Homo sapiens: one gene and its partners. The protein of the gene in region 4 purifies or fractionates together with the protein of the main gene of each other region. This does not show direct contact. Each region holds a gene or a part of one and is shown on either strand. Other genes may lie near its edges. The genes, in order: TESK2, KIF1C, DCLK1, LRFN1, NAV1, SRSF12 and KIF13B.

Region 1 (3,577 bases), on a different chromosome or scaffold from region 4:
AGGTACACTGGTACTTTTTTTCCTTTTTTTTTTCATGTCAGACAACGTGCAGACATTAATAAGGTTTGAGGGTAGTACACCTCACACATGCACATGAAAATCCAATCATCGTGCTATGGACTACAAAATGACTACATACTATTACTCATTTTAGAGAAGGCATTTAGAAATTAAGCAACTTGCTTAAAGTTATCCAGTTATTAAGTGGCAGAGACTGGCAGACTCTGCAGTCTGGCTCCAGAGTCCATACTCTTTACCACTACGTTGCACTGGAGACTTAGAGACCACAGCATCTGAGTAAGAGAGCCTCATGCAGCACAGGAGCTCAAAAATGAATTTACTCAAACCTTATATGATGTATTATCTCCCTCCTCCTCCCAAGGGAGAAAAAGAGGGAAATTCCTCTAAGCCTAAAATTTATATCTTAATACATATTTTTGGGTACCATTGCATTTACAAAGGACTAGGGAACTTAATGGGATAAGAGGAGAAATATCTGAATTCTAGCCCAATTCAGCCTCCTAATAGCCATTTAACTTGGACAAATCAACTAATAAGGCTATCCATCTTTCACTTTTCTCAACTATAAGTAGGTATGATAATCCCTGATTCACCTAATTTGCAGTGTTGTTATGAGAATCTAATAAAATATGTGAAAGTTGGCCAGGCGCCGTGGCTCACGCCTGTAATCTCAGCACTTTGGGAGGCCAAGGCGGGCAGATCACCTAAGGTCAGGAGTTCAAGACTAGCCTGGCCAACATAGTGAAACCCCATCTCTACTAAAAATACAAAAATTAGCCGGGCATGGTGGTGGGTGCCTGTAATCCCAGCTACTCGGGAGGCTGAGGCAGGAGAATCACTTGAACCCGGGAGGCGGAGGCTGCAGTGAAGTGAGATTGAGCCACTGCACTCCAGCCTAGGCAACAGAGTGAGACCCTGTCTTGAAAAAAAAATATGTAAAAGTTGGCCAGGCGAGATGGCTCACACCTGTATTCCTAGCACTTTGGGAGGCCAAGGCAGGTGGATCCCCTGAGGCTAGGAGTTCGAGACCAGTCTGGCCAACATGGTGAAACCCCATCTCTACTAAAGATACAAAAATAAGCAGGGCATGGTGGCAGACGACTGTGATCCCAGCTACTTGGGAGGCTGAGGCACGAGAATCACTTGAACCTTGGAGGCAGAGGTTGCGGTGGGCAGAGATCATATCACTGCACTCCAGCCTGGGCAACAGGGTGAGACTCTGTCTCAAAAAAATAATAATAAAATAAAATATGTGAAAGCGCTTCGAAAAAAATTTAAATGTCATATATTTTCTGATGTGGTAATAATATAAGCACCAAAAAGAACCAGTTGGGGGCAGCACCATGCAGCACTTCAGATCCTTGGAAGCGTCGGACCAGTTTTGGCAAGACAGAAAGAATGACTAAAAATAAATCTTCCAACTTCTCAAAAGGGAAACTTGTTGATCTGCTTCATCCTGCTTGATAATCCATCTTTGAAAATCTTAAAATAAGGCATAATGACGGCATAAGCACAGCGCCTTGCTCTCTTCATTCTAGTTGAATCTGCCCAAGATTCACATTTGAGGTGCCCATTTGCTGAAAAGAAACTGAGCTTGTGAACTTCAGGGTTATAAGTGGGCAGTGAAGCTGACATCTAATCATGCAGGCAGATTTCTTTAGCTCTGAAAGTCAAAAGGTAGGCAGTGGTTCACTTCTTTAGCATGATGACAGTGTGATATGTCGGGCCTGTCTTCAGGAGCCACTCAGGTTTCCCAACTGAGTGCCAGGCAGAAGACACTATAATGAAAAGACTGTATGTGCACTCTCTATAGGCCAGGTGACACCAGGACTCTTGGTTCTGGGAAACACTTGTTTACTCTGTTCAGCAGTGTCTCTGAAGGCCCTGGAAATCCATATGCAAAGCCAGAGGGTGGAGAGCACAGGAAAAGGTGACAAAAGATGAGGAATCACACTTGGCTAATAGATTCTGGCTTCTCCAGGCAAACTGGAAAAAGCGCAAACCAAGGACCAGAGAGGGAAAACAAATGGAATTTGCTTTTACAACCCATTTCTCTTGCCTGCCTTTGGTGAATACATTAGTTGGGCTGATAAGCCTGTAGGCCCTCAGAAACCGCTTCTCAATGTTTCAAGACCTCTGCATGCATAAGAAAAGGAAATTTGAGATTTGTCAACAAGGAAGATTTCTTTCTTTTTTTTGAGACGGAGTCTCACTCTGTCCCTCAGGCTGGAGTGCAGTGGCGCCATCTCGGCTCACTGCAACCTCCACCTCCCAGGTTCAAGTGATTCTCCAGCCTCAGCTTCCCGTGTAGCTGGGATTACAGGCTGTGTCACCACACCCAGCTAATTTTTGTATTTTTTAGTAGAGACAGGGTTTTCCCATGTTGGCCAGGCTTGTCTCGAACTCCTGACCTCAGGTGATCCACCCGCCTCAGCCTCCCAAAGTGCTAGGATTACAGGCGTGAGCTACCGCACCCAGCCAGAAGATTGCTACACGGTCTCTGTGCCCATTAGCTGGAATGTTCACTTCTCCATAAGCAACTCCCAGTGCAGACTCAGCTGGTGTGGCCTCTAAACAAATCCCTCTGCAGGAAGCAGAGACAAGAGCAACTGCATTAGCATGTTCAGCTTTCCCGGATGGGGATAACAGCTGCTTTGCTTTCATTTTCAGCTAGACTACTCCCTCGGTCAGCCCTATAAAATGACCCAAGGCATTGGTAATACATTTAATTAATACAGAAGTTTTAATATTTTTAATTGTTGTTATTTTAACCTTTCAAGTTAGAAAACTATAATACAGTCAATAAAATGTGTTATAGATACTTCAATACCTCTCAGTGGCTGTTACCTTTTTCTATACCAACTTTACCTATACCAAAACTTGCCTCACTTCCTCACGGTCTAATAAAATAACAGAGTTTCTTCCATTTCATTTGTGTTTGATACTTGGTTTCATTAAATATATACAGCCTTTTCCTAGAAGGCACTCAATAACTTTCTAAAGTGTATTGGTAATTCAACTATATTATGTAAATAAACCTTTATTACTAAAATGCAAGAAATCATATGCCAACATCTTTTTTAAAATCACCAAAGGCACAGAGAAGTGGACACTCAGTTCTCCACTCAGGAATATCAATTCAGGTTATTTCTACAAACATTTATTGAGCACTCCTCCCCCTACTGCCACTTCCATATGAGAGTAAGAACTTGTCTCTTGGCCAGGCACAGTGGCTCTCGCCTGTAATCCCAGCACTTTGAGAAGCTGATGTGGGAGGATCGCTTGAGGCCAGGAGCTCAAGACCAGCCTGGGCAACATAGCAAGACCCCCACTCAAAAAAAAGATGGTAAATTATATGTTATATGTATTTTACCACGATAGAGAATGTGTGTACAAGTGTCCCCATAGTTCTTTAGTCCCTTCCACTATGTAAGGACACAACAAAAAGACAGGCATTTATGAACCATGAAGTAGGCCCTCACCAAACACTGAATCTGCCTGTGCCTAGATCTTAGATTGCCCAGCCTCCAGAAGTGTGAGAAATAAATTTTTGTTG
Region 2 (3,553 bases), on a different chromosome or scaffold from region 4:
TGTTGTCTAGAAGAGCAGCGTTAAGCAGTCTGCCCAAGGGTGCGCTGTTGGGGTGGAGCAGGACTTGAACCCAGGCTCCCTGATGGGCGTGTTTCCAGTGTACTTAGGACACACTGGGCCAAGACACATGGGCTCTGGATGTCCTTAGCCCTCTCTTCCTCTTTCTTTCTCTGGCCCCAGTATGCAGACTCGGACAGCGGGGATGACTCTGACAAGCGCTCTTGTGAAGAGAGCTGGAGGCTCATCTCCTCCTTGCGGGAGCAGCTGCCGCCCACCACGGTCCAGACCATTGTCAAACGCTGTGGTCTGCCCAGCAGTGGCAAGCGCAGGGCCCCTCGCAGGGTTTATCAGATCCCCCAGCGACGCAGGCTGCAGGGCAAAGACCCCCGCTGGGCCACCATGGCTGACCTGAAGATGCAGGCGGTGAAGGAGATCTGCTACGAGGTGGCCCTGGCTGACTTCCGCCACGGGCGGGCTGAGATTGAGGCCCTGGCCGCCCTCAAGATGCGGGAGCTGTGTCGCACCTATGGCAAGCCAGACGGCCCCGGAGACGCCTGGAGGGCTGTGGCCCGGGATGTCTGGGACACTGTAGGCGAGGAGGAAGGAGGTGGAGCTGGCAGTGGTGGTGGCAGTGAGGAGGGAGCCCGAGGGGCGGAGGTGGAGGACCTCCGGGCCCACATCGACAAGCTGACGGGGATTCTGCAGGAGGTGAAGCTGCAGAACAGCAGCAAGGACCGGGAGCTGCAGGCCCTGCGGGACCGCATGCTCCGCATGGAGAGGGTCATCCCCCTGGCCCAGGTAGGACTGGCCTTCTGCCTCCCTTCTCTCCTCCCTCGGCTCTTCACTTTAGGAGTCTGAACCTTCCATCTCAGAGCCTAACCTTCCCCAAGTCTGGAAAAAATTGCATTGAAGTATAGTACGTTTTTTTCAATATTGTTTACGAACCACATGCCTCGCTGTCACCAGGCTGCTAATTAAAATAGATTCCCGGGTTCCACCCCAGACCTACTGAATCCACATCTTTGGGGACAAATCTGCATTTATAATAAGCTCTGGGTGTTTCTGAAATACAGTGAAGTCTAAGACCCACTGATATAAAGTTTGCAGTTTTGTTTTGTTTCTGAGGTGAAGTCTTGCTCTGTTGCCAGTCTGGAGTGCAGTGGCACAATCTCGGCTCACTGCAACTTCCGCCTCCCAGGTTCAAGCCATTCTCCTGCCTCAGCCTCCTGAGTAGCTGGGACTACAGGCGCGCACCACCACACCCGGCTAATTTTTTTTTTTTGTATTTTAGTAGAGACGGGGTTTCACCATGTTGGCCAGGATGGTCTTGATCTCTTGACCTTGTGATCCGCCCACCTCAGCTTCCCAAAGTGCTGCGATTACAGGCGTGAGCCACTGCGCCCGGCCCTAAACCACTATTTTTCGAGCTTCCTTATCTCTAGGCTTTTCTCTGGACCCTTTGACATCCAGCCACTCCAGGTCCCTCTTGAATCCACATGTCCTGAGGATTCAGCTCTCCTCACATCCCTTCTCCTTTTCTCACTCCTCCCTCCCAGGATCATGAGGATGAGAATGAAGAAGGTGGTGAGGTCCCCTGGGCCCCGCCTGAAGGATCAGAGGCAGCAGAGGAGGCAGCCCCCAGTGACCGCATGCCGTCAGCCCGGCCCCCCTCGCCACCACTGTCAAGCTGGGAGCGGGTGTCACGGCTCATGGAGGAGGACCCTGCCTTCCGTCGTGGTCGTCTTCGCTGGCTCAAGCAGGAGCAGCTACGGCTGCAGGGACTGCAGGGCTCTGGGGGCCGGGGCGGGGGGCTGCGCAGGCCCCCAGCCCGCTTTGTGCCCCCTCACGACTGCAAGCTACGCTTCCCCTTCAAGAGCAACCCCCAGCACCGGGAGTCTTGGCCAGGGATGGGGAGCGGGGAGGCTCCAACTCCGCTCCAACCCCCTGAGGAGGTCACTCCCCATCCAGCCACCCCTGCCCGCCGGCCTCCGAGTCCCCGAAGGTCCCACCATCCCCGCAGGAACTCCCTGGATGGAGGGGGCCGATCCCGGGGAGCGGGTTCTGCACAGCCTGAACCCCAGCACTTCCAGCCCAAAAAGCACAACTCTTATCCCCAGCCACCCCAACCCTACCCAGCCCAGCGGCCCCCAGGGCCCCGCTACCCCCCATACACTACTCCCCCACGAATGAGACGGCAGCGTTCTGCCCCTGACCTCAAGGAGAGTGGGGCAGCTGTGTGAGTCCCACATCCTGGGCAGAGGGCCTGGTGGGGCCCCTTGCTAGGAGAAGGGAAGACGCCCGAGACGCTGCTTCCCCAGAAGTGCTGGGGCAGGGAGGCCCAGGAGATGAGAGAGAAGGTCCGAGTAGGTGATAGAAGACAAGGGGGAGACCGAGCCGGAGGCTGAGGAAAGGAAGAGGGCACGGAGTTGCCAGGAGCAAACCAAAGTGAAGAGAGAGATAGGAAGCTGCCTCGGGGCCACCCCTTGCAAAGGGGGTGTGTCCCACAAACGCTGCTATGGGTGGGGTGGGGGGCTGGGGTGCTGCGTAGCCAGTGTTTGACTTTCTTTTCAAGTGGGGGAAAGTGGGAGAGGACTGAGAGTGAGGCAAGTTCTCCCCAGCCCCTGTCCGTCTGTCTGTCTGTCTGTGGTGGTTTCTGTTTCTTGGGAGGCATGGTAGGATCATAAGTCATTCCCCTCCCCTTCCAGGCCTCCTGCTATATTTGGGGGACCTGACTGGTTTGGCTGGAGTCCCATGAGGATGTGGGCCCTTTAATAAAGGATAGCAAACAGGGAGCTTGTGGCCTGTTTGTTTTGGGTTTTCATGGAGGTGTAGGTTATATAAGGCAATGGCACAGGTCTTAAGCATACTTATCAGTGAAGTATTGTATGTGTGCTCTGTGCAGGCACCACCCAGATCTGGATATAAGAATGTTTCCATCTTGTCTTCCTGAACTTCACCCTCCTGTCTCTTCCTTCAGGGTGCGCAGCCCGATCTTTTCCCCGCTTTTTTTTTTTGGGAGACAGGGTCTTGCTTTGTTGCCCAGGCTGGAGGTACAGTCTTGGCTCACTGCAGCCTCCGCCTCCTGAGTAGCTGGGATTACAGGCATGTGCCACCACGCCCGGCTCATTACTGTTTTTTTTGTAGTGACGAGGTTTCACCATATTGGCCAGGCTGGTCTCGAACTCCTGATGACCTCAAGTGATCCGCCCACCTTGGCCTCCCAAAGTGGTGGGATTACAGGTGTGAGCCACCGCGCCCGGCCTCCCCTGCTTTCATGTTTGCTTACCCAGTGTCTCAGTCTGTGCCAGCAGCACCACTGTCTGTTATGGACAAAGCACAGAAGCGGGGATGCGAGGGGAGGTAGAGGGACCGCCAGCCTGTCAATGCTTAACTGGCTGTTGCTGACAGATACAGAAGGATTTGTGGGGTACAGAGGAGTTCTGCTTTAAGTCACCTAACTTACTTGAAAGGTCTCCCAAGCAGCCAGTTTCTCTTGATAGTGAATGGGTTGGGCAAGCATACTGCGCTTACCTGATTGTTTTCATCCTGGTTG
Region 3 (3,577 bases), on a different chromosome or scaffold from region 4:
TCATCGCCAATTAAAATGAGTTGGAGAAAAAAGACTGGGATTAAATGTATACCAAGGTGCAAAAAAAGCTAGCAGATCCTTTTTGGAGGGTTGATTTTTCTGAAATTGAGATCTCAAGGCCCTGATGATGAAGAAGTAGATGGCACAAAAGAATCTGGGAAAGGGAGGTTGGATGGAGTGTTGGAAGAGCTTGATTTCACCTTGAGTTCATTTTTACTCCAGAACTATTTGCTCAGGCCGTGTAACTCAACTGGGTCCAGGAGGGATGCCATATAATCCCTCCCTCTCTTGTGCAGGTAGCAGGAAGCACCCGTTGCAGCCCCGTTGGAGTTGGGGGCTGCTCTCCCCTGACCGCACACTGACAGAGCCCTCTTGTCCTGCTTTGTAACCAGTGTATGTATGTGATTCAAGGCTGGGGACTTCTCCCTTTTTGCTTCCCTTCATCCCTTGGCAGAAATGCCAGCCTGATCACAGTGTGACTGGCCTTGAGAGCGTGCAGAGGAGCCTGTGTTTATTTTGTGGGAATTCACATCCCTTTTCGGTGACTTGACATGCTGCCAACATGCCTGTGGACTTGGCCTTTTTCCTTCTATTCAGAGGGTGGAACTTCCAGTAAATTAAAGGAGAAGAATTAACATGAAATTTTACTGTTTCAGCTTTAATTTCTGTGCCCTGTCCTTTGCATGACCTTTGGAAATCCAAGGTTAAATGAAACATTTGGTGGTATAGTCTAGGGGATCTGGATAAAAGTTATACGCAAAGTCAGGTGCATGACCAGTCAACAAGCCGTCCCTCTGAGGGCCGGTAGTACTGTAGGGAAAAATATGGCAAGATCTCAAAGCACATCCTAAGACAGCCATGGGTTGACACCTCACTCTGTTCCAGAGTCACTTGTGTAGCATCTATGGGGGTTGGGGTACTTCAATCAGTTTCCCACCCAGAAATGATCTTTACTTAGAAGTGGCCGAAGATACTCCAATGACTCCCATCCACCAAGGAGAGGGTCTGGGAGGTGGTAGATGACAGTACTCCCTTCACATCTAGGGACCAGCAAAATTATGGCATGCTTGTCACCATCTTCTTTGTCTTTTACTGCAAAATAATGCTTTCTCTGAGGGACTGATGTCTTGACTGAAGGTAATAATGATAGCTCTCAGTTATTGAGCATGTGCCAGGCACTGGCCAAATCCCTGCATATATGAATACATTTAATTCTCACAATGATCCTAGGAGGTGGGAACTGTTATCCTTATATTAAGGTGAGAAAAGGAAGGTACAGTGTGGTTAAATGATCTGCTCAAACTCACAAAGAAAGAAATGGTAGAGTTAGGATTTGAACCCAGGAAGGCTAGTGCCAAAGCTTGAGCTCATAACTACCTCTAAGATGCTGTGTGCTATGAATTCAACTACTATATTGAGTTTTTCCCCTCAATCAATGTGAAGTAACTGCCGACTGAATATTCTGATGTTTAAAAATGACTTTTTTGGGAAAAAAAAATTATCTGATTGAATGAATGGTAACTTTGGTACAGTGTGTGAGTTCACCATGTTGGCTGCATTTATTTTTTGAATTTTCATTTAAACAGATTTTTTTTCTAATTCATAACACTGACAATTAGCATGCAGCTGCACTTAGTGTTTAAATAGCTGGAAATTCATTTAGATTCGCCTCTTTGTCAATTACATTTTTTGCTTAGTCTGTTAAAATGCAAACCGTTGGTTCATATTCATCATTAGGCTCATATCTCTGACTTTACATACTAATTTTATGTAAACGTCAGTGCATGTTATTAGCTTTTCATTTCCCCTTCCAATATGATGATGTTTGAGTTTTAAATTAAATCCTTTTAGTGGGTGCAGTGGCAAGTGTATTGGACTTATAGTTATTTTCTTGCTCTTTCTCACTTGCTCTCAGACTAAAAATTCTGAATTACAATATTTGTGAATTTCTTTATCTATGACAGTCTTGTGGTCACTGTCACTGTTTTGTTTTTATCTATGGATTATTATGCCTAAGTGTGGTTTAAGCATGTTGGTAGAGCTAGCTGTATGTATTTAGCTGAGCCAAAATCATATAGTCAGTGTGAATGTGTGTGTCTATGATTGTATGTGTGTCACCTATGCACATATGTATGTATATACACACATATTCACACACATACACTTAAGAGCATTCCAAAGGTGACACTCTTGTTTGCTTTCAAAATGGCCTTAATATGTTTTTTTAAAAAAATCATGATGCTTAATAAGGAAAGTTGAATTGCAGGCCTATTTCCGCAAGTGATTCATCTTGAGACTTGGCCTCATTTCCCCCAATTTTGCACCATCTATATTCTACTGTAGGTAGGTAAATGTTGTGATGATAAATAAAGGTGTCACATTTAAAGCCTTTGAACTCTTAGGAGAAAGATGTAATGTAAACCTGGAGCATTGATGGATTGACTGATTTGTCCTTCTTTTAACATCTTATGAAAATGTACATGTGAGAGGGCCAGAACATTTTCTTTAAACATTAAGATAAAAACTCTGTAGATATGTAATCTTCTGGATACAAGTAAGTGAATTTGTTCATCAGATCTGCGCTATTAGAGATGAGTCCCTCTTCTTCTTTGGTTCTCATGTATGCCTTGGCTTTTCACTAACCCTGTATGGACGTTGCCTGACTCTGGAGCTGCAGTTTGCATAAGGGCTTTTTCCAAGTTTCTATCATAATCCCCCTCTCAGGATTAAACCCATGCTTCACCCCACAGTTAGGGAATCTCTTTCCTACCACAGCCTCTGGGTTACCCATCTTTTCCTATTCCCTAATAGAGCATCCTCTACTTTATTTCCCTATTTCACTGGCTTTCTCTATGCCTCTCCTTGCTATAATGAATTTTTTAAAATTAATTTTTGAATAGATATAAAATTTGCTCTTCCTAAAATTCCTCAGAGGGGACCACTTTACTAGTTTCTTTTTCTTTTCTTTTTTCTTTCTTTAAAAACAAAAGCAAAAACAAAAAACAGGGTTTTGCCATGTTTCCCAGGCTGGTCTCAAACTCCTGGGCTCAAGCCATCCACCCACCTCAGCCTCCCAAAATGCTGGGATTTCAGGCGTGAGGCACTGTGCCCAGCCTACTAGTTTCTTGAGGGTCCTCTCAGAGATACCAGTGCATGTGAAGGACACATATACAGCAATGCCCCCTTATCCTGGAAGGAAATACGTTCTATGACACCCAGTGGTTGCCTGAAACTGCAAATAGTACTGAACCCTGTGTATACTGTGCTTTTTTTCCTGTGAATACATACCTATGATAAAGGTATGTATATGATGCAAGGTATATGATAAAGTTTAATTTATAAATTAGGCATGGCAAGAAATTAACAACAATAACAAATACAATGGAACAATTATAACAATATACTATAATAAAAGTTATGTGAATGTGGCGTCTCTCTCAAAACATCCTTTTGTACTGTACTTGCCCTTCTTGTGATAGAGATGGAAGAAGCAAGATGGCGTGAGAGTTCATCACACTACTCAGAACTGCATGCAGTTTAAAACTCCTGAATTGTCTCTTTCTGGATTTTTTCATGT
Region 4 (2,476 bases):
ACTTTGTCACAAGAAATTATCTGTCTGTCAGTCTCAAATTCCAGAGACATTTACAAGCTAAATTCTATCTCCTGGACCCATTTATTTTCCCCAAAATCATTTATTACCCCTCAAAATTGCCTTCCTTTCCCCATCTCCCCTCCTGTGAAGAAAGGTATATAAGTATATAAACCTCACTGGGTTATTGGGTAATCACTTTCCTGTGATTTTCCTAGTGCATGTTAAATACCCTCCATATTCCTTTTCTCTTGTTAATCTATTGTCAGCCCATTCCAGTGAAATTTCAGAGAGTGAAGGGGAAGCTGTCTTTTCACCCCTATAGTAGAGACTCAGAAGTTGGCCTGCCTGCCTTTTTAAATCCCAGTTTTACCACCTTGGGCCAGTTATTTAACTTTTCTGGGCCAAAATTCCCTCATCTGGAAAACAGGATAATAATACCGATATGTCCTGGTGTTGTGAGAATTAAATGACTTAAGTGCTTGGCACATAGTAAGTAAGTATTCACTAAGCGTTAGCTATTATGATCATTTTATTTTTGTGATTATTCCCCACCTCTAAGTCTCTCAGAGGATAAAAGCCTGTCTGCCAGTCTCCTCCGGCCCCAGTTAGTCATCTTCCCATCTTCCTTCAGTCTCACTTAGAGTCCTTATGCTGCAATCTAGGTCACCCTCCCCCAACACACACACACACACACACACACACACACACACACACACACTACACGCGGACACACATACAGACACACACACAGGTCAGCAGGGCCTCAGACACAGAAAAAAGTTTAATTCTGCTGCGGCGGAGGGTCCCGGCTCCGGTAGGGAGGGGGATTTGGTTTTGGATTTTGTTCGTGTGGGGATTTATTTGGGAGAGTCTGGTCCTTCCAGTGGGACCTGCCCGGGAGAATGAGTAAAGAGAAGAAATCAGGAGAGACAGGGAGACTAGACAAAACCAGGGAGGGCCGAGGGACAAGAGACGACAGGACAGAGAGAAAGGAGAGGCAAATAGGGAAAGACAGGCACTACAGAGAGACGACAAGAGGGCGGGATAGAGACAAACGAGGGAAACAGAGAAAGGGGGACCCCAAGCCAGACCCGACCGGACCAGGAATGTGCGTGGGGTGGGGTGGGAGGCTTTGGAGGCCGCCGCGGGACAGAATAGGATCTAGTCCAGCCAGATACAAGAAATGGGCCCCTCGCCCCGGCCCCGGGTGACGGGCTGGGGGAGGGGGCTCGTGTCTCAGTGCTGCAGTGTCAGGGGGCCCTGCCCCTCCCCGCGCTTCGCTGTGTAAGGCACCGGCTCCAGCGAGGTCCGCGAGCGCGCGAGGGGAGGGGTAGGAGGGGGGTCGAGGAGTCCATAGGGGAAGGGAGGCCGGCAGCCGGTCCCCGAACCCCGCCCTGGGCACGGGGGCGTGGCCTCGAGCCGCAGCCCGAGGCTGCCCCGCCCCCTCCCGGGGACAAGGGCGCGTCTCCACTCTGGTCCAATGTCTTGGCGCTGCGCTTTCTCCCAGTCCCGCCCCAGCGTCCGTGCGGCTGGGCGTTTGGTCTGCGGCACCCAGGCGTCCCGGCGCCCGCCCGCCGCTCACACGGTACTCTCCAGCATCCACTCGGTGCTGGTGAAAGCCAGGCACGCCCTGGCGGAGCCCAGCCCCAGGTCTCCATCCTCCCCGGCCGCGCCCCCTCCAGCCCCGTCCAGGTGCGGCGTGGACCGGTGGCGCTTTGTCCGCCGGGCGCGGCGCGGGTAACTGTGGCTCTGGAATAGTGCCCCGTAGTCCCCGTCGAACGAATAGCGCTGCTGCGGCCTCGGCCGGGCCGCGGCTCCCCCAGGAACTAGAGCTAGAGTAGGGGGCGCCGAGGTTGGTGGCTCCAGGGCGCCGGATCGGCTCCTTCGAGGGCCCACCGCGGCCCGAGACTCCTCCCCGGAAGTTTCCTCGGATGGCAGCAGGCACAGCGAGGTGGCCGAGCCGCCCAGAGAACGTCCAAGGACCACCTCCGGCTCCGCGGATGCCGTCTCGGCCTCCATGGCCTTGGCCTCGACGGCGACGGCGGGGGCAGCCTGGGACTCCACCTCGCGCAGCGCCTCGTAGTGGTCCTGGGCCGGCAGGGCCGGGGCCTGTGCCGCGCCTGTGCCTGCGCCGTTGGTCTGCGAGCACACGTGGCTGACCCGCGGGAGCGACCTGGAGCCCTTGACGCGGCGGCTGTCCCCGTCGCCATACACCTTATAGCGGATCATGAGCAGAACGATGAAGACGAGGACCGAGGCGACGATGACGCCCCCGATGGCGATGATCATGGTGCCGCCCAAGAAATGGGCCCTCAGCGGGCGGCAGGGCGCCGGATCCCCAGCGGTGGTGAACTGTACACAGCCCACCACTCGCGTTGCCGGCAGCGCTGTGGCCCCGTCGTCGTAGACCGCCAGCACGCACAAGTCGTAGGCACGGCCCGCCGCCAGGTCATTCACCAGGAAGGTCTGACTGGTG
Region 5 (3,577 bases), on a different chromosome or scaffold from region 4:
AGTCCTCCACCTCGTCCTCCGTGGGCACTGATGTCACCGAGTAAGTGCTCTTTGGCTCCCTGCCACCCAGCCTGTTACCAGTGTAAGCTGTGGGCTAGAGTTGACAGGAGGCCATTAGACCTTAGACAAGCAGTACTTATTACTGACCTCTCCCTGGGCATATGAGACCAACAGATGGACCTTTCTTCTCATGCTGATTGAATATCAATGGGCAGGAGAAGCCAAGACCACCAACCATGCCTCTCAATATTCTCTAGTAACTCTAGTGCTTCTTCATGTAGCCTGGCTTGACTCTTGCTATCTTACAGGGGCCCTGCTCACCCAGCCCCCCACACTAGGCTGTTCCATGCAAATGAGGAGGAGGAGCCAGAGAAGAAGGAGGTATCGGAGCTGCGCTCTGAGCTATGGGAGAAGGAAATGAAGCTTACAGACATCCGCTTGGAGGCCCTCAACTCTGCCCACCAACTGGATCAGCTTCGGGAGACCATGCACAACATGCAGGTCAGTGTCTGGGCGGACAGCTGCAGGAAAGGGAAGACCAAGGCTTGCTGTCTGTCCAGTCTGCCACCCTACCCTGTCTGTTCTTGCCACAGTTGGAGGTGGACCTGCTGAAAGCAGAGAATGACCGACTGAAGGTAGCCCCAGGCCCCTCATCAGGCTCCACTCCAGGGCAGGTCCCTGGATCATCTGCATTATCTTCCCCACGCCGCTCCCTAGGCCTGGCACTCACCCATTCCTTCGGCCCCAGTCTTGCAGACACAGGTACCTGTGTGGGAGAAGAATCTATAAGGGTGAAGGGAAGAAAAGGGCTTATTTCACTGTTACACCATTCCACTTGCTTTGGTCAGGGCGGTAACAATGCCGAAGCCAAGCAGATGCCAGTGTCCTAAGACACTGAGTTGTAATGGTCCTTCAACCTTAACTACTTTTGAGTTTGGGACCTCCATTCCTTCTCTGTGGCAAACAGAGTTATTTTGGAAAGGATAATGATGGGAAAGTTTAGGAAAGGCTGCGGGTACTCCTAAAACCAGTTGGTTCTTTTCAATCCCCACAGACCTGTCACCCATGGATGGCATCAGTACTTGTGGTCCAAAGGAGGAAGTGACCCTCCGGGTGGTGGTGAGGATGCCCCCGCAGCACATCATCAAAGGGGTAAGGAACTTCAGGGAGAGCCACAGTGGGAATGAACAAATACTGTTACATTTATCCAAGAAAATCTGGACCCTGGGTACCTCCAAAACCAAAGAACTCAACTCCTAAGGCCTTTAGGACCCCGGTTCATGGAGTCATCTGCAGTGAAGCTCAAGAGCTTTTCCTTCCTTGGCCTTACAGGACTTGAAGCAGCAGGAATTCTTCCTGGGCTGTAGCAAGGTCAGTGGAAAAGTTGACTGGAAGATGCTGGATGAAGCTGTTTTCCAAGTGTTCAAGGTAAAGGGATACCTGTACTCAAAAAGGTTGTTCATCCTCTCGTGGAATATATATACTTTTTTAGAGACAGGGTCTCACTCTTGCCACCCAGGCTGGAGGGCAGTGGCGTGATCACAGCTCACTGCAGCCTTGAACTCTTGGGCTTAAGTAATTCTCCTGTCGCAGCCTCCTGAGTAGCTGGGATTACAAGCATGTGCCACCATGCATGGCTTCTCACAGGATATTAAACCGTCCAGGCACTGGGATCCTGGGGACCTTTGAGGCTTTATGGAGAAATGCTACCTAGGAAAAGCATATGCTCTGCACTTTCTCCATCTATTTCTGTTTCCTCTGATAGACATTCTTTGTTGTGGCTTTTACACCTGTGTTTGTATATTTTCTTCTTCTTCTGCCTGTCTTTTCTGTCAGGACTATATTTCTAAAATGGACCCAGCCTCTACCCTGGGACTAAGCACTGAGTCCATCCATGGCTACAGCATCAGCCACGTGAAACGAGTGTTGGATGCAGAGCCCCCCGAGATGCCTCCTTGCCGTCGAGGTGTCAATAACATATCAGTCTCCCTCAAAGGTCAGTCTTTGTCTCTTGGGGTGAGGTGGTGTGGCATGAAGGCAGGGACAGGATCATCAAATAATCCATCATGCATTCATTCACCAAGAACTCACTGAGAAGGTATAATATGAAGATGCTTAAGTAATGTGAGATATAAAAAGATGAGTAAGACCCAGTCCTAACTTTGGCTCCCAGGGACACTTTTGCTAAGCCTTGGCTTCTTGCTTCACTCCTCACCCCCAGCTCACAGCATGTCCCTAAAAAGAAGATCTAAGTTTTCAAAACTAGGGGTTAAGGGACTCTTATGGAACCATGGGGCAAGTGGCTCTGAGTTTCTTCAGGGGGCTCCTAGATAAAGAAAGAAAAGCCCTTTAGGATCCCTTGCTATCCTCAAGACCCTGGTCAATACTCATGCTTTCTGGGGTGGGGGTTCAGGTCTGAAGGAGAAATGCGTCGACAGCCTGGTGTTCGAGACGCTGATCCCCAAGCCGATGATGCAGCACTACATAAGCCTCCTGCTGAAGCACCGGCGCCTCGTCCTCTCGGGCCCCAGCGGCACGGGCAAGACCTACCTGACCAATCGCTTGGCCGAGTACCTGGTGGAGCGCTCTGGCCGTGAGGTCACAGAGGGCATCGTCAGCACCTTCAACATGCACCAGCAGTCTTGCAAGGTGGCTGCCCCCCGACACCCCTGCCAGCCTTTGTTCATGCCTCAGCCTTCCCTAAGACCCTTCCTCGGCCCCTTCCTGCCTCATTGTTCCCTTTTCCTCACCTCTGCCTTCATCTTTCTTCTCTTCTGTGTTCATTTCCTTCCCTCTCTATCTATCCCCTTTTCCAGTCTTCTCCTTTCCCTCCCCACGATTTCTTTCCAGCCTCTTGCCTTTAACTTGTTTCTCCACACTTTCCCTTGCCTTTATGGAGAAAGGCTTTCCTCTCCACACTTTTCCTTGCTTTGTGCACCTTCCTCCTCAGTTGGTCATTGATGAAACTGCATTCTCCTCATTTCTACCCCACTGTCTGCCAACCCTGTCAATCCCATCCCTTCTCTTTTGTTCTCTTCCTTCTACTTTTCTTTTCAGTATTACTCTCTGACCTTGGGCTATCTGGGAAGAAGCACTCAGAATTAAATGGTACATATTACACCCTCCCCTGCCAAAACCTGATGATGTCTCTTGAGTACCCTAATACAATGGAGTTGGTTCAGATCTTTGCTCTTCCCAGCTCGGGGAGGCATGCCCATTAGTAGTAGTCCATGGTACCAGTGAAAATCCATCTAGGAAATAGCATATGTTCCCCAACTTTGGGGAATTTAGGGGCTGCTGCTTAAGAGGGTTGCTTTAGAGCCTTTGCAACCACTGCTTATCACTCTGTGGTAATCTGCTGTAATCAAATTTGCAAGGAACTAAAGGCCCCAGGGGAATCTAGATCTAGTAAGACTTCTTCAAAATCCTGATTTCCAAGGCCGATCCAGCTGCTTATTCCCAAGTGCTGACCCACAGCCTTCTTTTATTCCAGGATCTGCAACTGTATCTTTCCAACCTAGCCAACCAGATAGACCGGGAAACAGGAATTGGGGATGTGCCCCTGGTGATTCTATTG
Region 6 (2,883 bases), on a different chromosome or scaffold from region 4:
TAACTATTTCTTTTCTTTTTTTTTTTTTTTTGTCTTGGAGGTTTTCTCTTGTTGCCCAGGTTGGGGTGCAATGGCACGATCTTGGCTCACTGCAACCTCTGCCTCCCAGGTTCAAGTGATTGATTCTCTTGCCTCAGCCTCCTAAGTAGCTGGGATTATAGGCATGCACCACCATGCCAGGCTAATTTTTGTATTTTTAGTAGAGATGGGGTTTCACCATGTTAGTCAGGCTGGTCTTGAACTCCTGACCTCAGGTGATCCACTCGCCTTGGCCTCCCAAAGTGGGATTACAGGCATGAGCCACTGCACCCAGTCTAGTTCATTATTTCTTCTGCTATATCTAGATTGCTGTTAAGACCATCTAATGACTTTTTAATTTCAGATATCATATATTTTTAGTTTTAAATGTCTATTTGTTTCTTTTTATAGATTGTAGTTTTCCACTGAACGATCTTTTTATCTGTTTTGTCTTTTCCTCTTATTTTCTTAAATATATTACTCATAGTAATTTTTTAAATTCCTGTTTGATGATGCCAATATCCAAATCACTTTGGGAATGATTCTTTGCCTTTTATTTTCCTTAGTTTTTAGTTATTCTTGCCTGTTTTTTTTTTTTTTAACATAACATGTGGACATGGACAAAAAATTATAGAGGCTCTGCATGACATTATCATTCTCCAAAGACAGTTTTCTTCTGGTAGACAGAGTACTGGCAGATCACTTTGATCTTAAGGCTTGGTTTTGGGTGTTGTTAAAGCTGCTTGTTTTGGCTTTGAATTTATTCCTAGGGCATGGCCCTTACCTCTAGATTGTAGCCCTTCTGGGTTGTTACCTAATGTTCCTCATTGACCTTTTGGGAGTTTGAACTCTAATCTCTCTCTCAGCACTGTGTGTCTGATAAAAATTTCAGCGCAGTTCTTGAATTTCTGAATTCCGGTTTTTTGCTGGTCCCTTGGAATCTCTTCCATACACACACAACTTAGAAGATGGCCAGTGATTTAAGGATAATTTGTAGGCAAATTTTAGAGGTACTTTTTGGTCTCTAATTCACTCTTCTCTAGAGTTTTTGCCTCTCGTGTCCCACCCATTTTGGTAGCCCTGAATTAACTTTTCTCTCTTCAGCTTAGTCAAATAGCCATTTTCTGGTTGGGCTCAACTCCTCCATGCTGTCATTTGAAAAATGGTCTTAGTAAAAGAGCCAAGGCTTGTAATCCCTCAGGTTCTTCCTGCTTGTGTTGATTATCCTCCAGTGCCTTCGAACAGTTGTTTTATAAATGTTGTGTAGCTTTTCAATATAGTTGTTTTCGGCTGGGTGTGGTAGCTCACGCCTGTAATCCCAGCACTTTAGGAGGCCGAGGCAGGGGGATAACCTGAGGTCGGGAGATTGAGACCAGCCTGACCAACATGGAGAAATCCCATCTCTACTGAAAATACAAAGTTAGCTGGGCGTGGTGGCGCATGCCTGTAATCCCAGCTACTCTGGAGGCTGAGAGAGAAGAATTGCTCAAACCTGGGAGGCGGAGGTTGCGGTGAGCTGAGATCGTGCCATTGCACTCTAGCCTGGGCAACAAGAGCGAAACTCCGTCTCAAAAAAAAAAAAAACATGTATGTGTGTGTGTGTGTGTATATATATATACACACATATATATATACACACACATATATATATACACACACATATATACACACATATATATGTGTATATATATACACACATATATATATGTATATATATATGGAGAGAGAGAGAGAGAGCTGTTTTCTATGGGAAGATTAGTCTAATACAAGCTGTTCTGTCATGGCAGGACCCAAAAGTCCTACATCTAGATTTTTATTTTTATAAGCATTATTTGAACTGTAAATAATTGATTTTTTTAATCTTTTTTTCTTCAGATTTTTGTACCTCTTAAGAGCTGTATAACTCAGACCAAATATGCAGTGTATTTTTCAGAACTGATCCCTATATGTCTAGCAAAGTAAAAATTTTTGGCCATATATTCTAGTATAACAAATATTACAAACTTGTTACTTATGTTTGAACCAAAAGCATGCATAATAAAATGAGAAATTTTTTTAGCTTATCTAGTAAAAATATAACTAATGTTATGTAAAGTATGTAAGTTCCTGAAAGTGTTATTTCCTGATCTCTTATTTTGTGTGAAATATATGCTCTAACATTATGGATGTTTGCAGGTCTCGACACAGGCGATTTTCTTATAGCCAGTCTAAATCTCGTTCCAAATCATTACCAAGGCGGTCTACCTCAGCAAGGCAGTCAAGAACTCCAAGAAGGAATTTTGGCTCTAGAGGACGGTCAAGGTCCAAGTCCTTACAAAAGAGGTCCAAGTCAATAGGAAAATCACAGTCAAGTTCACCTCAAAAGCAGACTAGCTCAGGAACAAAATCAAGATCACATGGAAGACATTCTGACTCAATAGCAAGATCCCCGTGTAAATCTCCCAAAGGGTATACCAATTCTGAAACTAAAGTACAAACAGCAAAGCATTCTCATTTTCGGTCACATTCCAGATCTCGAAGTTATCGTCATAAAAACAGTTGGTGAACAGCAACAGAAAGAGCACCACGCCGTCTTTAATATAAGTTATTAAACTCTCATTATGTTAAATAAAAATTCTTTAAGGCATACAGAAAATGCGAGTTGATATTAGTTACTTTGGGCATATGGAAGAAATAAAATCTCTAGCTTTGGATTAATAAAAATTTGGTCTCCATTTAAAGGGCCCACACTACAAATTATGATTTGTCTAATGTCACCATTTTATGGACCATTTTTTATTTACATTGTGGCAGAAGGGTACTTTTCAAGGGAAATGAGTAAACTGGAACTAATTTTTAAAATTCTACTTGCATAGTATTAGTACT
Region 7 (3,577 bases), on a different chromosome or scaffold from region 4:
TCAGAAATATTTGTCTAGTCATACATTTATTTTAACATTCCACTAACAAAAGGAAAAAGAAAAAGAAAAAAGTTCACATACTTTCTTCATCCTAACAGCTTTTCATTTCCATGCCAGTTTGTGCTCACACGTGTATGTAATTTTACATAATTTTAATATTACAACCTTTATTTTGCCTTTCTTCATCTGAGATGCAAAGCTAAACAACTAGAGAAAAGGGTAAATTTTTGTCACAAGATCTTCAAGTTCTATTTGCAGATATCGTTTGTTTTCCAGTGTTGTTGTTCAGACTGTACAGCTAAACAGATAATTCTTGTGTGCTTCCATGTGCCGCACAGAACACCCATTCATACATTATTAACCCGTCTAATCATTACAGGAGCTGAAAGTTCTGTAGCCGTAATTGGTGGGATTAGTTAGATCAGCAACATTCTCCTTTCCAGGAATTTGATGTTTTCTAACTTTAGGTGGCTTAAAAAACATTTAATAGGTAAGCAAACATTGATTGAGTGCCTGCCAGGTATCTGGCTTATATTAGATAGGATGAGATCTTAATGCTTTTCCTCAAGGGATTTCCTGTGTGTAAATCTGTATAAGATCAACTACCAAAATAAGTAAATATCTATAAAAGGTGTTTGGAATACCTTTGTTACCTACCTAGCCTAAGGGGGTAGAACCGGGAAACGAAAGAAATGAAGATAGAAACAGTGAAATAGATTATTTCAGGTGTTAGGGAGAATGGACAAGAAATTTATTTCAGGAGATATTTCAAATGAGTTTACTTGGCATTTTCCAATACTTGATGTGGTGAAAGACACAGAAGTATGTAATAATGTCTAATAGAGTCAATGTAGAGTCAGTGCCTTGGTAATCATGATCTAGTATCTCAATGGAGGGACTATTATACAGCGATTAAAATGATGACAGTCAAAACCATTTAACAAGGAAGATCGTTTTCTCTGTTAGTGGAAAAAGAATGTAAAGCTGTACGTGTAACTGATCAAATCTATTATTATTACTATGTAAAAATGTATACAGGAATGGGCAAGAGCTAGAAAGAAACATGAAAAAGTGAAATTGATTGTTCTTGTTAGGGGGATTTTACTTCCTAAAAGTTTTCTTAGGGTTGCCTGTTACCATCATATTCAGTTTCTTAAAGCATGCTTTATGGTTCATGCCTGTGAGGAAATGACTGTCATGGGCTTGAAAAGAAAATGCCTGTGAAAAGATTAGATTAAAAGGTAAACAGCTGTAGCAGGCTGCTAGTTACTAAGTGCCAGGTGAATGACAGGGAAATAAGGGAATCGAGAGGAGTTTAGACTTCACTGAGGAGGGTGAACTTTGGTTGGACTTCCAGGGAGGAAGCTTATGATGTGAGCACGGGAGAGGGGATGGCATGTATTCTTTGAGGAGGAAGTATGGCCTGAGAGTGAGGACACAGAGACTAGAATGAGTAAAGCAGGTTTAGGCAGCAGAGATGAGATCTGCCTGCCAGAATGGAGATTCTGTGAGGATAGCTAGAGAATGATGGGACAGGAAAGGTCAGGTGGATTGCAGGAAGCCCTGAAAGCAGCCAGGCCAGAAGTCCGGACCTAGGGTGGCTGGTCCACGCACTCTGTTTTGCTTCTTGGGACCTTGTATGGGGCTTGGACACAAACACAACGGGGAAAGATTGCTAGATCCCAAAGCAAGATTGGAAGCTTCAGTAGATGACCGATTTCTGGCATAGCTGGGCAGGATTTAAAAGCGCTTGCTGAAAATGAAGCCTTGTGAATGGGAAGCATAAGGAAGTCGGTCAAAATTAAGCAGCTGTGAATCAACAGGCAAAGGAAAAACCCAGCAAGTGCGAGGAAGCTTAGAAGATGCTGGTAGTCAGTGAAGATAGAGGTGACCCTTAGGAAATGAAGGGACAGGAGAAGGTGGCTTTGACCCCTGGGGTCATTGGTGATTCTTCAGTATTCTCAGAGAGATCACTGACAGATGTGGAGCCAAGGAGGACCGTGGATGGAAATTTCTGGCAGTATTTGCTAAAACAGAAGATACTTGTTTTGTCAGCATCTGCTTGACATGCTAATGGTGAATGAGACACACATGTATTACAACATTGTTTTGTTTCTACTGTCAACTCAGTGACTGAAATTTGGATATATGCACATAGGGCCAGAGGCATTTTGAGAAGAAGGTATACTTTTAAATTCTTTTCCCCAAATCTCCTGTTTTTTGTTTGTTGGTTGGTTTCTTTGTTTTTATTTATTTATTTTTTTTGAGACAGGGTCTCCCTCTGTTGCCCAGGCTGGAGTGCAGTGGCATGATCATCACTCACTGCATCCTCAACCTCAACCTCCTGGGCTCTAGCGATATTCCTGCTGCAGCCTGCTGTGGAGTTGGTACATAGGTGTGCACAACCATGTCTGTCTAATTTCAATATTTTTTGTAGAGATAGGGTCTCACTTTGTTGCTCTGGCTGGCCAGACCTCTTTTCAAGAAATATACATTTATAATATAAAATACAATGTTGTTTAATTGGCATTAGCTTTTACCCTCTCACCTCCATAAAACAATAACTGTCCGACTTTTCCACTTCTTAAGTGCTGAAAATGGAAGAAACCACTGACAAAACTATTAATTAAGGAGATGGATTGAAGTGCTGATTGAGTGGAAATGGATGTATTGATCTCTATGCTTGCTCCTCAAGTTCCCCTTGTGTTTGGCAGAGCATGTTCTTTAAAAAAAAAAACAAAAACTCGACCAAGATGAGCAGTGTGCCCTGTGACCTGGGAAGTGCGTGAAACTAACTGGTCCACTCCATGCAAGTCCATGACTTAACTGTATGGGGCTTTCGCTCTGAGGAGATAAAGATATCTTTAGAAAATGGTATCCATTAGTCATTCATTTCAACAGTGTTGACTGAAGAAAAAGAAAATAGCTGCTTTTTGACAACTTTCTATTTGCGAGCAATGGAGTTCAATGCTTTTTAATGCATTATTTTATTCTTCAAACCAGACTTTGAAAAGGAATTGTAGGCCAGGTGTGGTGGCTCACCCCTGTACTCCCAGCACTTTGGGAGGCCGAGGTGGGTGGATCACTTGAGGCCAGGAGTTTGAGACCAGACTGGCCAACATGGTGAAACCCTGTCTCTACTAAAAATACAGAAACTAGCTGGGTGTGGTGGTGAGTGCCTGTAATCCCAGCTACTCAGGAGGCTGAGGTGGGATAATCGCTTCAACCTGGAAGGCGGAGGTTGCAGTGAGCTGAAATCGCACCACTGCACTCTAGCCTGGGCGACAGAGCGAGACTGTCTCAAAACAAACAAACAAACAAACAAAAAAAGTAGTAATTGTAGCATTTCTATGTAGCAGAACCTCAGAGAGGTTAATTAACATTCCCAGAATTACAAAACCCACCTGTGCTTTTACTACAATGTTGGACATGATTATCTTTAAGAGGATCTTGCTATCCTGAGATGACACCATTTTCAAAGATGTGCAGGATAAACTGGAAGCATAAGTCTTGATCTTCCATCAAAGGAGCTCCCAGTCTTGTTGATAATAAGATGCACATGTGAGTTCATTGGAAG

Evidence for each region.
Region 1: the proteins of LRFN1 (region 4) and TESK2 purify together in Homo sapiens (affinity purification with mass spectrometry, with the first as the bait; one large-scale study listed by BioGRID). This does not show direct contact.
Region 2: the proteins of LRFN1 (region 4) and KIF1C purify together in Homo sapiens (affinity purification with mass spectrometry, with the first as the bait; one large-scale study listed by BioGRID). This does not show direct contact.
Region 3: the proteins of LRFN1 (region 4) and DCLK1 purify together in Homo sapiens (affinity purification with mass spectrometry, with the first as the bait; one large-scale study listed by BioGRID). This does not show direct contact.
Region 5: the proteins of LRFN1 (region 4) and NAV1 purify together in Homo sapiens (affinity purification with mass spectrometry, with the first as the bait; one large-scale study listed by BioGRID). This does not show direct contact.
Region 6: the proteins of LRFN1 (region 4) and SRSF12 purify together in Homo sapiens (affinity purification with mass spectrometry, with the first as the bait; one large-scale study listed by BioGRID). This does not show direct contact.
Region 7: the proteins of LRFN1 (region 4) and KIF13B purify together in Homo sapiens (affinity purification with mass spectrometry, with the first as the bait; one large-scale study listed by BioGRID). This does not show direct contact.

Annotation. Positions count from the first base shown.
Region 1 is NC_000001.11:45,358,617-45,362,193, forward strand, and holds part of TESK2 (dual specificity testis-specific protein kinase 2), read right to left. Parts: intron 133-3,577; exon of another isoform or gene 36-132; intron 1-35. UniProt on the Homo sapiens protein: Dual specificity protein kinase activity catalyzing autophosphorylation and phosphorylation of exogenous substrates on both serine/threonine and tyrosine residues. Phosphorylates cofilin at 'Ser-3'. May play an important role in spermatogenesis.
Region 2 is NC_000017.11:5,021,912-5,025,464, forward strand, and holds part of KIF1C (kinesin-like protein KIF1C), read left to right. Parts: intron 1-180; coding exon 181-798; intron 799-1,556; coding exon 1,557-2,240; 3' UTR 2,241-3,553. UniProt on the Homo sapiens protein: Motor required for the retrograde transport of Golgi vesicles to the endoplasmic reticulum. Has a microtubule plus end-directed motility.
Region 3 is NC_000013.11:36,121,362-36,124,938, reverse strand, and holds part of DCLK1 (serine/threonine-protein kinase DCLK1), read left to right. Parts: intron 1-3,577.
Region 4 is NC_000019.10:39,306,055-39,308,530, forward strand, and holds the end of LRFN1 (leucine-rich repeat and fibronectin type III domain-containing protein 1 precursor), read right to left. Parts: coding exon 1,579-2,476; 3' UTR 512-1,578; downstream 1-511. UniProt on the Homo sapiens protein: Promotes neurite outgrowth in hippocampal neurons. Involved in the regulation and maintenance of excitatory synapses. Induces the clustering of excitatory postsynaptic proteins, including DLG4, DLGAP1, GRIA1 and GRIN1.
Region 5 is NC_000001.11:201,808,110-201,811,686, forward strand, and holds part of NAV1 (neuron navigator 1), read left to right. Parts: coding exon 1-40; intron 41-308; coding exon 309-501; exon of another isoform or gene 502-593; coding exon 594-762; intron 763-1,054; coding exon 1,055-1,152; intron 1,153-1,332; coding exon 1,333-1,428; intron 1,429-1,836; coding exon 1,837-1,996; intron 1,997-2,413; coding exon 2,414-2,649; intron 2,650-3,493; coding exon 3,494-3,577. UniProt on the Homo sapiens protein: May be involved in neuronal migration.
Region 6 is NC_000006.12:89,098,258-89,101,140, reverse strand, and holds part of SRSF12 (serine/arginine-rich splicing factor 12), read left to right. Parts: intron 1-2,193; coding exon 2,194-2,563; 3' UTR 2,564-2,883. UniProt on the Homo sapiens protein: Splicing factor that seems to antagonize SR proteins in pre-mRNA splicing regulation.
Region 7 is NC_000008.11:29,256,500-29,260,076, reverse strand, and holds part of KIF13B (kinesin-like protein KIF13B), read left to right. Parts: intron 1-3,577. UniProt on the Homo sapiens protein: Involved in reorganization of the cortical cytoskeleton. Regulates axon formation by promoting the formation of extra axons. May be functionally important for the intracellular trafficking of MAGUKs and associated protein complexes.